Linked DNA regions of Homo sapiens: region 1 is linked to region 2. The links come from fine-mapping of genetic effects on gene expression. Tissue or cell type: whole blood. Region 2 holds a variant in brackets; the other region holds the start of a gene. All regions are shown on one strand. Distances are from middle to middle.

Region 1 (8,096 bases), 90 kb before region 2:
TACTAAAATACGAAAAAATCAGCCTGGCATGGTGGTGTGAGCCTGTAGTCCCAGCTACTCAGGAGGCCGAGGTTTAATTGCGAGAACCCAGGAGGTGGAGGTTGCAGTGAGCCAAGATCATGCCACTGCGCTCCAGTCTGGGCGACAAAGTGAAACTCTGTCTCAAAAACAAACAAACAAAAACTACTAGAGGCCAGGCGTGGTGGCTCACGCCTGTAATCCCAGCACTTTGGGAGGCCGAGGCAGGTGGATCACCTGAGGTCAGGAGTTTGAGACCAGCCTGACCAACATGGAGAAACCCCATCTCTACTGAAAATATAAAAGTAGCGGGGCATGGTGGCACATGCCTGTAATCCCAGCTACTCAGGAGGCTGAGGCAGGAGAATCGCTTGAATCCAGGAGGCAGAGGTTGCAGTGAGCCAAGATCGTGCCATTGCACTCCAGCCTGGGCAATAAAAGCGAAACTCTGTCTAAAAAAATAAAAATAAAACATTACTAGAACAATGAAATAAAAATAGATGCGTAATGATTTTGTTCATTATTAGATTCAACAGATAGACTTACTTTCTCAAATTGCTGCAAGTTTCTAAGTGCCTAGGCTGAATTTCTGTACTTATTGCACAGCACTGGTCTAAGGATCAGACTCTGAGAAGTATTAGTCTATATTAGAGCATGTACCATGTTTAGAGATGAGTGCCTGCAGGGTGACAGCCTTCTCATGGTCCCTTCATATTCTCCAGTATGCAGGGGGCTTTGCATCCAGCACACTCTGTCTGTGCATTTAAATGGGAACCAAACAGTACACTATGAGCAGAAGCATAGCCTTGTGAAAATAACTCAGGCCCTAACGTCAGGCAATGTAACTTTAGAGACTCTACTGCTCCCCAGCTCTGTGGCTACTGGCAAGTCATTTAACTCCTCTGGGTCTCAGCTTTCTCATCTGTGAAATGTGGATAAGAGCATGCAGCTCGGATTGGGAGGAATAGTGACACATACTGGTAAAGCATTCAGCACAACAATGGCTATTACTACTATTGCCATTTCAACTACAAACATAGTCAAATACTAAAAATCTCAGAAACAATCTACAATCTATATTCCTTTGGCAAGCTTATACTGTAAAGGGCTAGAACATAAATATATTCAGTTTTGTAGGTCCTAAGATCTGTGTTGCAACTACTCCATTCTACCGTTGTAGCGTGAAAGCAACCATATGCAATATGCAGAGGATTATAGGTGGCTGTGTTCTAAGAAAACTATTTATGTGTAATCTTGGCACTTTGGCAGCCAAAGTGGGCAGATTACTTGAGGCCAGGAGTTCAAGACCAACCCTGGCAACAAGGCAAGATCTTGTCTTTAGAAAAAAAAAAATTATTCAGGCATGGTGGCACTCGCCTGTAGTCCCAGCTACTTAGCTACTCAGGAGGCCGACATGGGACGACTGCTTCAGCTCAGGAGTTCAAGGCTGCTGTGAGCTATGATTGCACCACTGCACTCCAGCCTGGGTGACAGAGCAAGACTGTGTCTAAAAAAACAAAACAAAACAAAAAAAACAAAAACCAACCCCACAAAACTTTATTTATGGACACTGACACAGGAAACTTACAACATTTTCAAATGTCATAAAATATTATTCTTTTGATTTTTTTTCATTCATTTAAAAATGTAAAAACCATTTTTAGGTGGCAGGCCATAGAAAAACTGGCAGCAAATTGTGCCGATTCTTAGTAAAAAGAATTTTAAAAAGAAAAAGAAAAACAGGCAGCAGGCCAGATTTGATCCTCTGCCCTTAGTTTGCCAACTCCTGCTCTAAACCCTTTCTACCTCAGTTCAGTTAAAAATACCTATTGCATATGATAACCCTGAGTGTACAGAGTAGGAAAGAAGGTAGAAGAAGTTGAATCTGCCATGTGTTAAGGATTTTTGTTTTGTTTTGTTTTTAAACTTCGTTCTGCAATAATTTCAGGCTTAGAAACAAAAAGTTGAAAAAAAGAGTAAAAATAATTCCTTCATTGATTTTCCAAATGTTAACATTTTACCACATTTGCTTTTCTTTCTCACGTTCTTTTCATGCCTGGAATACCATTTCTCTCCCTCTCTCTCTCTCTCTTTCTCTCTCTCTCCATTTTTTTTTGTGAACTGTTTGAGAATCAGTTGCAAAGATGATGCCCTTTTGTTTCCTAAAAAACAAGGATGTTCTTTTATATAACCATTACCAAAATTACCATTACCGTTACCCAAATCAATACACTAATACAAAACTATTATTTAATATTTAGACCGTGTACCATTATCAAAATCAGAAAGTTAACATTGATGCGGCCGGGCACAGTGGCTCATGCCTGTAATCCCAGCACTTTGGGAGGCCGAGGTGGGCAAATCACTTGAGGTCAAGAGCTCCAGACCAGCCTGGCTAACATGGTGATACCCCATCTCTACTAAAAATACAAAAATTAGCCAAGCCTAGTGGTGGGTGCCTGTAATCCCAGCTACTTTGGAGGCTGAGGTGGGAGAATCACTTGAACCTGGGAGGCGGAGGTTGCAGTGAGCCGAGATTGTGCCACTGCACTCCAGCCTGGGTGACAGAGTGAGACTCTGTCCCCCCACCCCCCCAAAAAGGAAATTAACATTGATGCATGGTACTAATCTAACCTACAAGTCTAATTCTGATTTCATCAACTGTCCCACTAACATCCTGTATATACCAAGCTTCTTATCGTCATCATCTCTGGTAATTTCCCCAATTATCCAGTGAATTTGATATTATTAGCCCTGCTTTACCAACAAAGAAACTAAGCTCAGAGAGGTTAAGTAATTTGCCCACAGTTACACAGACAGTAAGTGGCAGAGCTGGAATTCCAACTCAAGTGTACTTCCTCCAGAGCCCTTGTTCTTTAATACTGAACTAGAATTGCAGAGCTTGGAAAGGACTTCACAGTGCAAGGACACGGAATTGGTACTACAGGCATGAAAAGAAGCCAGGCACGGTGGCTCATGTCTGTAATTCCAGCATTTTGGGAGTTCCAGGCAGGTAGATTGCTTGATCCCAGAACTTCAAGACCTGCCTGGGAAACGTGGTGAGACCCTGTCTCTACAAAAAATACAAAAATTAGCCGGGTGTGGTGGCGCACGCCTGTAGTCCCAGCCACTTGGTAGGCTGAGACGGGAGAATTGCTTGAGCCCAGGAGGCCAAAGCTGCAGTAAGCCGTGATTGCGCCCCACTCCAGCCTGGGTGACAGAGTGAGACCCTGTCTCAAAAAACACAAAAACAAAACAAAAAAACAACCCCCCAAACCAAAAAACAAAAACCTAAGAAAAGCCAGTAACTGATACTTTCTCAATCTCTCAATGAAATGTCCTTTCTGATACTTTCTCAATCTCTCAAGGACATGTCCGGTAGGAAAGGAGAAAGGAGTGAACAAATAGAATTTTGGCTACTTTGTTATACAATGTAAAAAGGCTTTTTGGAACACCAAGGCATAAACTAAGGTTATTTTAAAAAAGAAAATTTTTTTTTGATACGGAATTTCGCTCTTATTGCCCAGGCTGGAGCGCAATGGCTCGATCTCGGTTTACTGCAACCTCCACCTCCCGGGTTCAAGCGATTCTCCTGTCTCAGCCTCCTCAGTAGCTGGGATTACAGGCGCCTGCCACCACGCCCGGCTAATTTTTGTATTTTTAGTAGAGACGGGGTTTCATCATACTGGTCAGGCTGGTCTGGAACTCCTGACCTCAGGCGATCCGCCCGCCTCGGCCTCCCAAAGTGCTGGGATTACAGGCGTGAGCAGGATTTTCATTCTAACAAGTTCCAGGTGAGTTGATACAGTGGCTCCAGGGACCGACCACATTTTGCTAACCCCCGGCTTAGAGTTATTCAAAGAGCCCGTATATGAGACGCGGATTCCATCTAGGGCGTTTAGGTTTAATGATTAACAATTTCCCTCTTCTGCTCTCTCAAGGCAGCCAGGGAACAGGGAGACCATGATTCATGTCCAATCCCCGAGGCGCGTTATCAAGCTGCTGAAAGCAGGCCCTCCGGACTGCAGTTCCAAAGGGTCCCTTCCCAGGGAAGACGCCTGCAAAACCCAGATAGTACTATCCTGGAGTCACGCGGCGGCGCGCAGCCTCCTAGCCGCCCCCACCCGCCCGGCTCGGCCACAGCGGGGCGGGGCGCGGGGCTGAGCAGGCGCGAGGGCTGGCTGCTGGGCCGACGAGGGGCGGTGCCAGGCCGTGGGTCCTTAGTCAAGTGACGCGAAGCGGCCGGCCTGGGCGCCGACTGCAGAGCCGGGAGGCTGGTGGTCATGCCGGGGTTCCTGGTTCGCATCCTCCCTCTGTTGCTGGTTCTGCTGCTTCTGGGCCCTACGCGCGGCTTGCGCGTAAGTCTGCGGGACCCGGGTACGGGGAGGCATTGCTAGGGGACAGGCTGGCGGGGAACCGGGCTGGGGTCGCAGCCACCCGCGGTCCCGCAGGGCGGGGAGCCTGAGCCCCGAAGTGCCCCCCAGCAGGCTCGCGGCCGGCGGAACGCAGGCAGTGGACCGGCCTTCCCGTCGGGGGCGGGCCGGGCGGGGCGCGCGTCCTTCCAGGCAGCTCGGTCGCTTGTGCGTTCCGCTCCGGCCGCCCTTTGCGCTTGGATCCACTTCCCCATCTGTAACGAGGTGTTGAGACGAGGTGCGTGTAAACATTTCCTAAGTTGGCTTTCCGGGAGGGGATTCCAAGTTGCGCGGGTTAGAGGGTGCCTCCGGCTCTGGTTTGGGGCGCCCTCGCTTTCCCAGTTGGTGCTCTGCGGAGCGCTCCGGAAGGAGAAAAATGGGGTCAGGAGAGGCCCTTGCAGTGGGAACATTGGGTTATTTCCCCTCTGGGTGCTCTCCCTCTTCGTGCATCTTGTTCCTTTCTCACCACTCCCCGTCGCCTGCCCTTTGGCTTGGGTTTTTCTTTGTATTTGTGGGACCGTTTTCCTTCGGCGTTTGGGGGTCCAGGTTGAGGGGGGGAATAGGCAGGCTGCCGGGGGATGCCATCGTTGATCGGGGCAGGGCTGGCGAGGCGAATAGGTGAGGTGCGGGGCGTGCACAGTTGGTGGGAGAGGAAGGACAGCTTCACTCGCTGCGTCCGAGCTGAGGCGACTGGCTGAGGGGCTCCAAAGCGCTGCCTGGGGAGGTTTGCATCACACCTGCGGAAAGGAGAGTGGGTAGTTGCAAGCTGCTCCTCTGCACGTTCCGCGGACCAACTTTGGTTCCTCCAGGGTGTAGGTGGGCTGAGCCTGCAGTATGCTTTAAGTAAGAGCTGGTAGCATTTGACACCGTTGACTTGTAAGTTACACCCTTTAATAACGCTTTCAATAACGTGCCTAGGGCAGAGAAAAGTGGTACATTTATCTACAACCAAGATTGAACATCTTAAGTATTTGGAAAACAGCTGCTGAAAATGTTTTCATTTTGGGAAAAAGTCAGCACAGATTATTTGCTGCTCCCTCTTCACCCCGTCTGTGGTTCCCCTACCCCAGTATGTAGACAGAGTTTTCTTGTCCAGAAGGCCCGTAGGACCTTAGGAGTCAGAGCTAGCCAGCTGTGAGAACCACTGGGGAAGGTGGAACTGGGGCACAGTTCAGGAGAACAGTGGCAGGGTAAGGGGCTAGGGGAAAGGCAGATCTTAACCAGTATCTGGGAGTGGGGGTAGGGAGAGAGAGAAGGATTTATGAACCAGGAACAGGTGGACAGGGTCAATCTGTCTGATGTGAGCTCATCAGTCTTGTGCAGCGTCATTGGGTCAGGGTGGATGCCCTGTGGCTGCCATACCTGAGGCCCACACAGGGAGGCTGGCATCACCCCAGGAATTCTCATTTCAGGTGCCTAGGTGTCCCTCTTGGGCTTCTGTGCCCACAGCTAAAGAAAGATACCAGCAGTCTAGCTTTCCATTATCTCCTTGTTTACATTTCTTTAGGGTTCACGCCATTCTCCTGCCTCAGCCTCCCGAGTAGCTGGGACTACAGGCGCCCGCCATCACACCCGACTAATTTTTTTCTTTTTTTGTATTTTTAGTAGAGACGGGGTTTCACCATGTTAGCCAGGATGGTCTCGATCTCCTGACCTCGTGACCCAGCGGTTCTCAAATTTTAACTAAATTTTAGCTGTCCTAGAAATTAAGAGAATATTCCTTTTTTTTTTTTTTTTTTTTTTTTTGAGACAGAGTCTCGCTCTTTTGCCCAGGCTGGAGTGCAGTGGCACGATCTTGGCTCACTACAACTTCCACCTCCCAGGTTCAAGTGATTCTCCTGCCTCAGCCTCCCGAGTAGCTGGGATTACATGCATCCACCACCATGCCTGGCTAATTTTTGAATTTTTAGTAGAGACAGGGTTTTACCATGTTGGCCAGGCTGGTCTTGAACTCCTGACCTCAGGTAATCTGCCTGCCTCGGCCTCCCAAAGTGCTGGAATTATAGGCGTCAGCCACTGTGCCCAGCCCTAGAGAATATTTTAAACTATTTGTTAAGAAATACTACATCATTACACGTTAATAAACAATATATATATTTGAAAAACAATAGTATTTCTCCCCAAATTTTAGGGTGAAGAGTTGCACTGTTTTACATTTCTGCAAATCTCTTTCAATGTCTCTTAATAGAAGACAGTCAAATTTTCATGTTTATTTCTGCATTAAATCTGTTGCCATATCACATGTCACATAGCCTCTGGAAGACTCCACCCCCTCAGGACAGAGTGAGAATGGAAAAGGCAGTAATGGCTTGGAATTATAATAAAAATAGTTTTGACTAATTGGACCCCTGAAGGGCTCTCTCCAGACCACACTTTGAATACCGCTGATTTGGAATGTTTTTATAAAACAAGTACATGCTTACTGTAGAGAAACTTTAAACGTATAGAACATGTGGTAAGAAAATGAAAACTGCCCATCATGTCACAATGCTGTGAGTTTCTTTTTGAATAATAAAGTATAGCTAGCAACTGACTGGTATTTGAGTAGCTTGGATTCAAGGTGGGTTGGGCAGATGTAAGTGGCCTTTGAGTTTTGAATGGGTACAAGGACACTCTAATATCCCACAAAGCTGATGCTGGTTCCTGGTTGCAGGCGGAGTTGACCTGGAAACCTCTCCTTGGCCACTGTCCTTTCTAAGGAACTCATTTCCAGAGTCCACCAGCACAGAACTGGTGGGGGAGCCTACTAGGAGCAGAGAAAATGGCCATCTTCAGGCAGCTGTCCCTAGGCGCGAAGGCCACCCTGGCTGCTGTCACTGTCTTCGTGTCCATGATCGCCTCCCGCTCGTATCTGGCAGAGAGCCTTGAGCTCAGGGCCTGGCGTTGGCTGCTTCGCTTGCAGCTTGCCCTGTTTGTCAACTCGCTCTTGCTCATTGGCTCCCTCTACATTTGGCGCAGCACAGTGAGCAACCTCTGCCACTCCCCAGCTGCAGAGTCAACCTGTTTTCAGCTTTGGAAGGTGGTGGTTCTGGCATTTCTGGCCCTGGCCCATTCCAGTTTCTTTACCATGTTCTTTTTAGTGGCCGAAGAGCCCTATCTCTTTTCCTTGGCGGCCTACTCCTGCCTGGGTGCTTACATCATCATGCTCTTCTTCCTCTTCATCCTCAGCGGCATGGAGCAGGCCTACCAGCTCTTGGCCTGGCGCAGTGGTAGGGTCGTGGGCAGCCTTGAGAAGACAAGGAAGCTCGTGCTCAGGCCTGCCCTGGCAGTGGGAGTGACTGCTGTGCTCAGCGTGGCCGGGATTCTGAATGCCGCGCAGCCCCCGGCTGTGAAAACTGTGGAGGTGCCCATCCATCAGCTGCCTGCCTCAATGAACAACCTCAAGATCGTGCTCCTCTCAGACATTCACTTGGGCCCCACAGTGGGCAGGACCAAGATGGAAATGTTTGTGAGGATGGTGAATGTGCTGGAACCAGACATCACGGTGATTGTGGGTGACCTCTCCGACTCAGAAGCCTCGGTCCTGCGGACGGCTGTCGCTCCTCTGGGCCAGCTTCATTCACATCTCGGTGCCTACTTCGTCACAGGCAATCATGAGTACTACACGTCAGATGTCAGCAACTGGTTTGCACTTCTGGAATCCCTGCATGTCCAGCCTCTTCATAA
Region 2 (8,106 bases):
GAAGGCAGAGGCTGCAGTGAGCCAAGAGCATGCCACTGCACTCCAGCCTGGGTGACAAAGCAAGACTGTGTCTCAAAAACAAAACAAAAACAAACAAACAAAAAAAGTATGCTGTTTAATTTCCACATATTTTGGGTTTGTAAAAATATCTTGTAATTATTAATTTGTAACTTAATTCCTCTATAAAACTTCTAAAATTTCTCTCTAGGGAGAGAAATCTCCATGATCTTGGGTTAGGCAAAGACTTCTTAGATTTGACACCTAAGGCATTATCCTTAAAGAACAAAAATTGATAAATTGGACTTTATCAGAATTAAAAATATTTGTTCTTCAAAAAGCATTATTAGGAAAATGAGAATCCAAGCCACAAACTGGGAGAAAAATAATTTTCAAATCATATATCTAACAAAGGACTTATATCTAGAATATGTAAAGAATTCTTACAATTCAATAATAGACAAACAGCCCAGTCACAAAAGGAGCAAAGAACTTGAATAGACATTTTACCAAAGAAGGCATAAGATGGCTAAGTACATTTGCATTTGTATACCTTCTTTGGTAAAATGTCTATTATAAACTAAAATTAGTGGCTGATTAATGTTCAACATTATTAATCATTTGGGAAATGCAAGTCAAAACCAAAATGAAATACTACTTCACACTCACCAAGATGGCTAAATAGTAAGAAGGACAATAGGCAATGTTGGAAAGGACATGGGGGAAAGGGAATCTTCCCACATTGCTGGTAGAAAGATAAGAAGGTACATTTGGGAGCATAGTTTGGCAATTTCTTCAAGGGCTAAACATAGATTACCATAGAACCCAGCAATTCCGCTCCTAGGTATATACACAAGAGAAAGGAAAACATGTTCACATAAAAACTTACATGCAAGTGTTTATAGCAGTATTATAATAACTGTAAGTTGGAATTAATTCAGATGTCTATCACCTGACAAGTGGAGAAAGCATGTATATCCATACGATTCCTCAATAAAAAGGAATGGAGTACTGATAACATGCCACAATCCAGATGAATTGGAAAAATATTATGCTAAGTAAAAGAAGCCAAAACTAAAAGGCTATGTATTGTATGACTCCATTTATATGAAATGTTCAGAAAAGGCAAATCCATAGAGATAGTAGCTTACTGGTTGCCTAGGGCTGAGGGTGGGAATGGAGCGTGACTGTTAAGTGGGCATGGGGTTTCTATTGGAGCTGATGGATATGCTCTGAAACTAACTTGAATGATGGCTGCACAGTCTTCTTAAATGTATTTAGACTTGTTTTATGGCCCAGCACAGGCATATATCTTGCTGAACATACCTTTGGAATTTTAGGCTTTAATATCCTCTCTCTGGCTGCATGTTTCTATGCACCAAACTCTCATGCCTACCAACCTTGCTCTTAAATCTTTTTTTTTATTTTTTTGAGACAGTCTTGCTCTTGTCACCCAGGCTGGAGTGCAATGGCACAATCTCGGCTCACTGCAACCTCCGCCTCCTGGGTTCAAGTGATCCTCCTGTCTCAGCCTCTCGAGTAGCTGGGATTACAGGCACCCCCCACCACACTTGGCTGATTTTTGTGTTTTTAGTAGAGATGGGGTTTCACCGTGTTGGCCAGGCTGGTCTTGAACTCCTGACCTCGTGGTCCACCTGCCTTGGCCTCCCGAAGTGCTGGGATTACAGGCATGAACCACTGCACCCGGCCTTAAATCTTATTAATGACCTGAAACATTCCACCATTAAGGCTGCAGTTCTTCCTCTACCAAGCCTAGGCCTTACCACAATCTTTTTTATTTATTTATTTATTTATTTATTTATTTATTTTTTAAGATGGAGTTTCATTCTTGTTGCCCAGGCTGGAGTACAGTGGCACAATCTTGGCTCACTGCAACCTCCGCCTCCCAGGTTCAAGCGATTCTCCTGCCTCAGCCTCCCATGTAGCTGGGATTACAGGCATGCACCACCACGCCTGGCTAATTTTGTATTTTTAGTAGAGACGGGGTTTCTCCATGTTGGTCAGGCCAGTCTCAAACTCCCGACGTCAGGTGATCTGCCTGCCTCGGCCTCCCAGAGTGCTGGGATTACAGGCGTGAACCACTGCGCCCGGCCACCACGATCTTTTTTTAAGAGTCATCAGTCCACCTGCCCCCTTGCCCCTTTGGCCTTCTACTCTGCCTCCTTCATTCCTCCTCCATGTAGAATGGATCCACTACTGGTGTCTCTGCTGGTTCACCAGTCACTGAGCACAGCTAAGGGACTTCTCAGCGCATTCATCGTGGCTACCATCCCCTCATTGTTGCCAGCCTCCAGAAGCCCTCAGATTTGCCCAGCAGTCCTTGGTCTCTCTCTGCTCCTTTCCCCCACTGGCCTTTTCAACCTTCAGCACCCTCCTTAAGCCACCTGACTCTCCACCCTCTCCACTGAAGACCTCATCCTCCTTGACTGCTATCAGGTGTAACTCCTTTGTTCCCTCAGCTTCCTGTCAGACTTATCTCTCTGCCTCCAACCTCATTTCCTGCCCAGTGGTATCTAGGAGGAAGTCTGAATTCTGAATCTCCTCCCCACCTTCTTCCTTCAGGGCAAGATCCTGTTCTCATATTTCCTCTACCTGCATTTTGTCAGCCTCTCCATCTTTCTGCCGAGTCCCATTTTTCAGCCAAAAAGTGGTAACTAGGAGCTCTAGGACCTAAACACAAAGAAAGCCCTCCCTGGATCTTCCCCCTTTAGCTAGCAAGTTCTTGTTCCCTCGATCCCTCTTTTTCTCCCCTCCTAATGCAGTAGAGACCAATGGAAAAGTGTGGGATGTGTTGGAGGTCAGAGGGAGGTTCATCTTGGCCAAGTCTTAAAGGTGTCACACGCAAGAGTTACTGACCCAGGCGTTCTGCTCAACGCTTTATAGACACTATCTCCGTAGCCATCAAAAGAGGCACCTGTGGTAGATGGATCATTATCTCCAGTTTGCAGATGAGTAGCTGGAGGCTTAGATAGCTAAGTAACTTGTACGAGGTACAGAAGTGCTCAGTGGCACATCTACCTGAGCCCCAGCCGTGTCTTGAAGGCCCATGTGAAAAAGCAGGCAGCATTGAGAACCGGTGAGGAACTCATACTCATTATCTAGGCTGGGGCTCTTTACTTATTTGGTCAGTCTGATGAATGCTCTGCATCTCCAGGCTTGAAAGTACATCTCCACACAGTATTTGTGAATGTGTCAAAGGGTTCAGACCCCCAAAAGCCCATCTAATCCATATGTCCACTCAAACACTTGTACACAACTGTTCATTGCACCGTTATCCATAATTGCCAAAAGGTGGAAACAGCCCAAATGTCCATCAGCTGAGGAATGAATAAACGAAATGTAGTACATCCATACAATGGAATATGATTCAGCAATAAAAAGAAATGAAGTATTGATACATGTTACAACATGGAAGAATTTTGAAAACATTAGGCTAATGAAAGACGCCAGTCACAAAGGACTGTATGTTGCATGATTCCATTTACATGAAATGTCCGGAACAGGCAAATTCATATAGACAGGAAGATCTGTGATTGCCTAGAGCAGGGAAAAGAGAGTGTTGGTTGGATGGGAAGAGAATGTTAAAGGGTACAGGGCTTCTTAACGGAGTGACGAAATGTTCTATAATTGACTTTGGTAATGGTTGTGCAGCTCTGTAGTATACTAAAGACTGCTGAATTGTATGGTATATGAATTCTATGTCAATAAAGTGCCACACACAAGGCCCATCCAAGAAGTTTGTGGACTTTGGACTGAATGCGTGTGAAGGTCCAAGGGTACACACACATCCTACCTAACACAGAACCAATGTGGTTTCTGTTTTCTGGTGCACAGTGGTCCCTGCTGCTGGGGACAGTCCCAGGCCAGCTCTGGGGCTTCTAAATGATCAGCCACCTCAGAACAGGCAGATCCCACTCCCACACTGAGTGCTAAGCTCTGACATTTGAAAGAATGAGCACGTTAGCACATGGTTTGAATGCAGGGAGCTGGCAGTTGCGGTGTGGGGTTGGACAAAATGATCCCTGAAGCCCCAGCTGTTTCTAAGGCTGTGCACTAACCCCCACATCCTTCATCAGGAGAGGCCCTTGTCAAAGGCCCTGGCACAGGACTCTATGCTCTTCCTATTCATTTTACTGTAAAGAAACTACCTTGATTTAGAGAGCAAAGTCACTGATAAGGGCGATTCATAAGATTAAAAAATCACTTTTGTTTACACTGGCTTTACTTGAGTCGGATGTGGCTTTCTGGTTAATGCCAGATGTGAATGAATATCAACTGGGACTTCAGTAGAAAGGGGTCAGGCATGTTCTGCTCTGTCCAGCAGACACAGGGCAATGCTTTGACCTCACTGAGTTCTTATCTGACTGGAAAGTCCATTAGATAGGAAGCGTTCTTCTCCAGTGCTTTCCACAATATGTCCTGTATGCCAGTGGTCCCCAACCTTGTTGGTATCAGGGACTAGTTTCGTGGAAGACACTGTTTCCATGGACTGTGTGGTCAGGGGTGGGGGGGTGGAAATGGTTTTGGGATGAAACTGTTCCACCTCAAATCATCAGGCATTAGTTAGATTCTCATAAGGAGTGCACAGCCTATATCCCTCGCGTGCGCAGTTCACAATAGGGTTCCTGCTCCTATGAGAATCTGATGCTGCTGCCGATCTGACAGGAGGTGGCGCTCAGGCAGTAATGCTCGCTCACCTCTCACTGTGCGGCCCGGTTCCTAACAGGCCGCAGACCAGTCTGTGGCCTGGGGTTTGGGGA[C/A]CCCTGCTATATGCCAAACCTGAAATGTCATGTTCTGCCACTGCAGCAGTGCTTGTGCTATTTATCTCTCTTTCAGCTGGGTGTGGATAAGTCTCCTGTCAATATCCTATGCAGCCTTCAACATTTTGTGGTAGGTTTAGGTGCATGACAGAGCATGGTGTGAGTGGGATAGTGTCCATTTTTCCTTAACCAAAATTATGCTTTGAAGAGTCAAGAATCAAAATAGAATACTGATGAAAAGTAATTCTGTATTTTAAAGATAAATTGTCCCACCTTCAAGATGTAAAATAACTATGAAATAAAACAATGTATGATAAACGGTTGAAAGAAATTCCTTCTTTTAACTGTTTGTTGCATCTTGCTTTTGAAATTTCCTGGCCGACGCGATGGCTCACACCTGTAATCCTAGCCCTTTGGGAGACCGAGGTGGTAGGATCACTTGAGCTCAGGGGTTTGAGACCAGCCTAGGCAACTTAATAAGACCTCATCTCTACAAAAAAAATTTTTGAATTAGCTGGGCTTGGTGGCATGCACCTGTAGTCCCAGCTACTTGGTGGGAGATGGGAGGATTGCTTGAGCCCAGCAAATCAAGGCTGCACTGAGACATGATTATGCCAGAAAAGAGTATGTAAAACTTTTAAAACCTTATCAGTGTTAGTCACTTGGTCTCAATCCATTTGGAGAGACAGAGGTATAGAAAGAGCCCAAGAGGATTATAAGAGTCTGTAAGAGATATGTAAACCATGCAGTTGGGCCTTGGAGAGGAAGAAATTATAAGTGCTTAAGATTGCTGGGAAAGGTCTGGTCTTCCTAGTGGGAAGGATATTTTGTGCAGAGGGATTGATATTTTTCAAGGGAATAGTATAGTAAGAAATATATTTGGTCTTTGTCCCTGGTTCCAGGGCCCTAAAACCCTTGGAATTTTCTGAGTGGTAGGAGTGTCTTTTGTTATTCATAACTAGCCTCTTTCAATCCCACCTGGGTTTGTGCTAATGAGGCGACTTAGGATGGAGCCCCTAGATAACCATAGGATAGTTACAAGGGCATGATGGCACCTGCAGTCCCAGCTACTTGGTGAGAGGTGGGGGGATTGCTTCTCCTGACTTGCGTGCCCAAACTTCTCCTGGTTTTCTTCCCTCTCTTTGCTCCTTCTCAGGCTTCTCTGTCAGCTTCTATGTTGCAGTCCTCAGGACTTGGTCCTGGGCTCTCTTCTTACACTTTTGGGGATTGTCCTCACAGATGTGCTGGACATGCTTACATTTCCTTTTCCAGCTCAGCTCTTACAAGGCTCTGGAGCCCACCTTTGGGGGTCTCATAGGCACCTCCAGCCTGATAGGTATAAAACAGAACTCTCTCCCTGTTACCCCTGAAAGCTACTCTTCTGCTGGAGAAGTGGTCCAGAGAGAAGGAACAGAGCTGGACTTGAGTGTGGCAGTAGGGAGGGAGGGCGGTCCAGCTTCAGGAAATAGTAATAGTACCAGCCACATCTGAGAGCTTACCATGTGCTGGCTACAGTACTGAGTGCTCACAGGTGTCTTCTCACCCAGCTGTTCTCAGCAATCCTGAGAAAGGCACAGACATGGCTGAGGAAGCCCCAGTGGGATTTGGTGATTGATCAGTGAAAGTGGGACTGACTAAGTAGTGGATGGCTCTACTATTTTTAAATTGAGTTTTTAAACGTCACTCACTTTCCTGAAAAGTAGCATGCTTAGGCACCTTCTGACCATGGAGATGTGTATCAGTTAGCTTCTGCTGCATAACGAGCCACCCAAAACTTAGTGGATTAAAACGACAACAGTTTATTTAGTTCACGATTTTGAGTATTGGCAGACCAAGTAGTGGTTTTGCTGGTCTCAGCTGGGCATGACCACCTGGGTGTTAGCCATCTGTCAGCTGAGGCAACAGAGAAGATGAGACCATCTCTCTTTCATCATCCAGCAAGCTAGCCTAGGCTTGTTCACATGACTAGCAGGGTTCACACGACTGAGCAGGGTTCAAAGAAAGAATGCAAATGCGCAAGGCTCCTTAAGGCCAAAGTCAGGATTCACATGTCACTTCTTCCACGTTGTTTGGCCAAAATATGTCACTAGACCAGCCAGATCCAAGGAATGGAGAAACATGTTCTACCCCTTTTTTTTTTTGAAATGGAGTCTCACTCTGTTGCCCAAGCTGGAGTGCAGCGACACGATCTCAGCTCATTGCAACCTCCGCCTCCCAGGTTCAAGCGATTCTCCTGCCTCAGCCTCCTGAGTAGCTGGGATTACAGGTGCACACCACCATACCTGGCTGATTTTTGTATTTTTAGTAGAGATGGGGTTTCACCATGTAGGCCAGGCTGGTCTGGAACTCCTGACCTCAGGTGATCCACCCACCTTGGCCTCCCAAAGTGCTGGGATTACAGGAGTGAGCCACCATGCCCAGACAGATTCTACTTCTTGATAGAGGGACCCACTAATAATTGGGGCCATCTGTTCAATATCCCACAGGTCTTAACACTATTGGACCCTACTTTCATCCTAAATTTGATGTGCTTGTTAAACTTCTTTTTTGTCTAATTTGCAGTTATGCTTACCTCCTACAAGACCTACTATTTCCGTCTAATTCACTGTTTCCAGTTGCACAAGTCCCGTGAACTTTGAAACTAGACCATCAGACTACTCTCAACAAATATTATGTTAATTTAGCAACAAAACTTGTTAGAACTTTTGTAAATGGGTAAATAGGCTAGAAGTGAAAGAAGGTCTTCTTCAATTTTTAGGTTGTGAACTTTATAACAAATATGACATGAGGCAGTAGTTTTTGCTTATCAGTTCCTAGCTTGGTTCCAGATACGTGAGGTGGTTTGACGACTGTTGTTAGGTAAGCTATTGTATTAAAAAGGTCTAGCTATGGTGGAACTGTTGGAAGTTGAGAAGGAAAAAGAATTTTTATTTGGGATTTGATGAGAAGTGATTTATCTTTTATGCTGTTATTTTATGCATTTGATGGCTTCAGTTCTATTTGGACCTGTCCCAAAATATAGAGAAACCATAAAGTTATTTAATTTTATTACTTTAAGACTGAGGAGGAAGCAAAAAAGTGTGATTTGCGTCAGCTGCAGAGCCTTTTGGGGTTCTGAAGGAAGGGGAGAATTAATCTTCTGTGTATTTCATTGAGATCTATTTAACCTCTTATTTCTAAGCAAGCCTTGTAAGAGGCTTTTACCTTTTTTTCTTTTCAATTCTCCTCTTTTTCTTCTCTTTCTCCCAGGTAAGCATCACAGTGATTCATGAGTTCGGTGTGTGAGAGCCTTTAACCTTGGGAACTGGACCTTTGTCTTTCCCATTTT

What was found. PIP is the estimated chance that this variant, and not a neighbour inherited with it, causes the effect.
Region 1: it holds the start of GLB1, and the variant in region 2 is fine-mapped to the expression of GLB1 in whole blood (TOPMed, PIP 0.95).

Annotation. Positions count from the first base shown.
Region 1 is chr3:33,093,291-33,101,386 of GRCh38, reverse strand. It overlaps GLB1 (galactosidase beta 1), which reads left to right and starts at 4,241. Exons shown (of 16, transcript NM_000404.4): 1 at 4,241-4,376. The coding sequence starts at 4,302. TMPPE (transmembrane protein with metallophosphoesterase domain) reads left to right here and starts at 4,241. Exons shown (of 2, transcript NM_001039770.3): 1 at 4,241-4,668; 2 at 7,084-8,096. The coding sequence starts at 7,192. RefSeq lists a silencer at 4,044-4,653.
Region 2 is chr3:33,002,843-33,010,948 of GRCh38, reverse strand. The region is part of intron 15 of GLB1 (galactosidase beta 1); the gene reads left to right. Among named protein-coding and RNA genes, the nearest start is that of CCR4, 55 kb to the right of the region's middle. The variant C/A (reference allele first, on the strand shown) is at 4,779.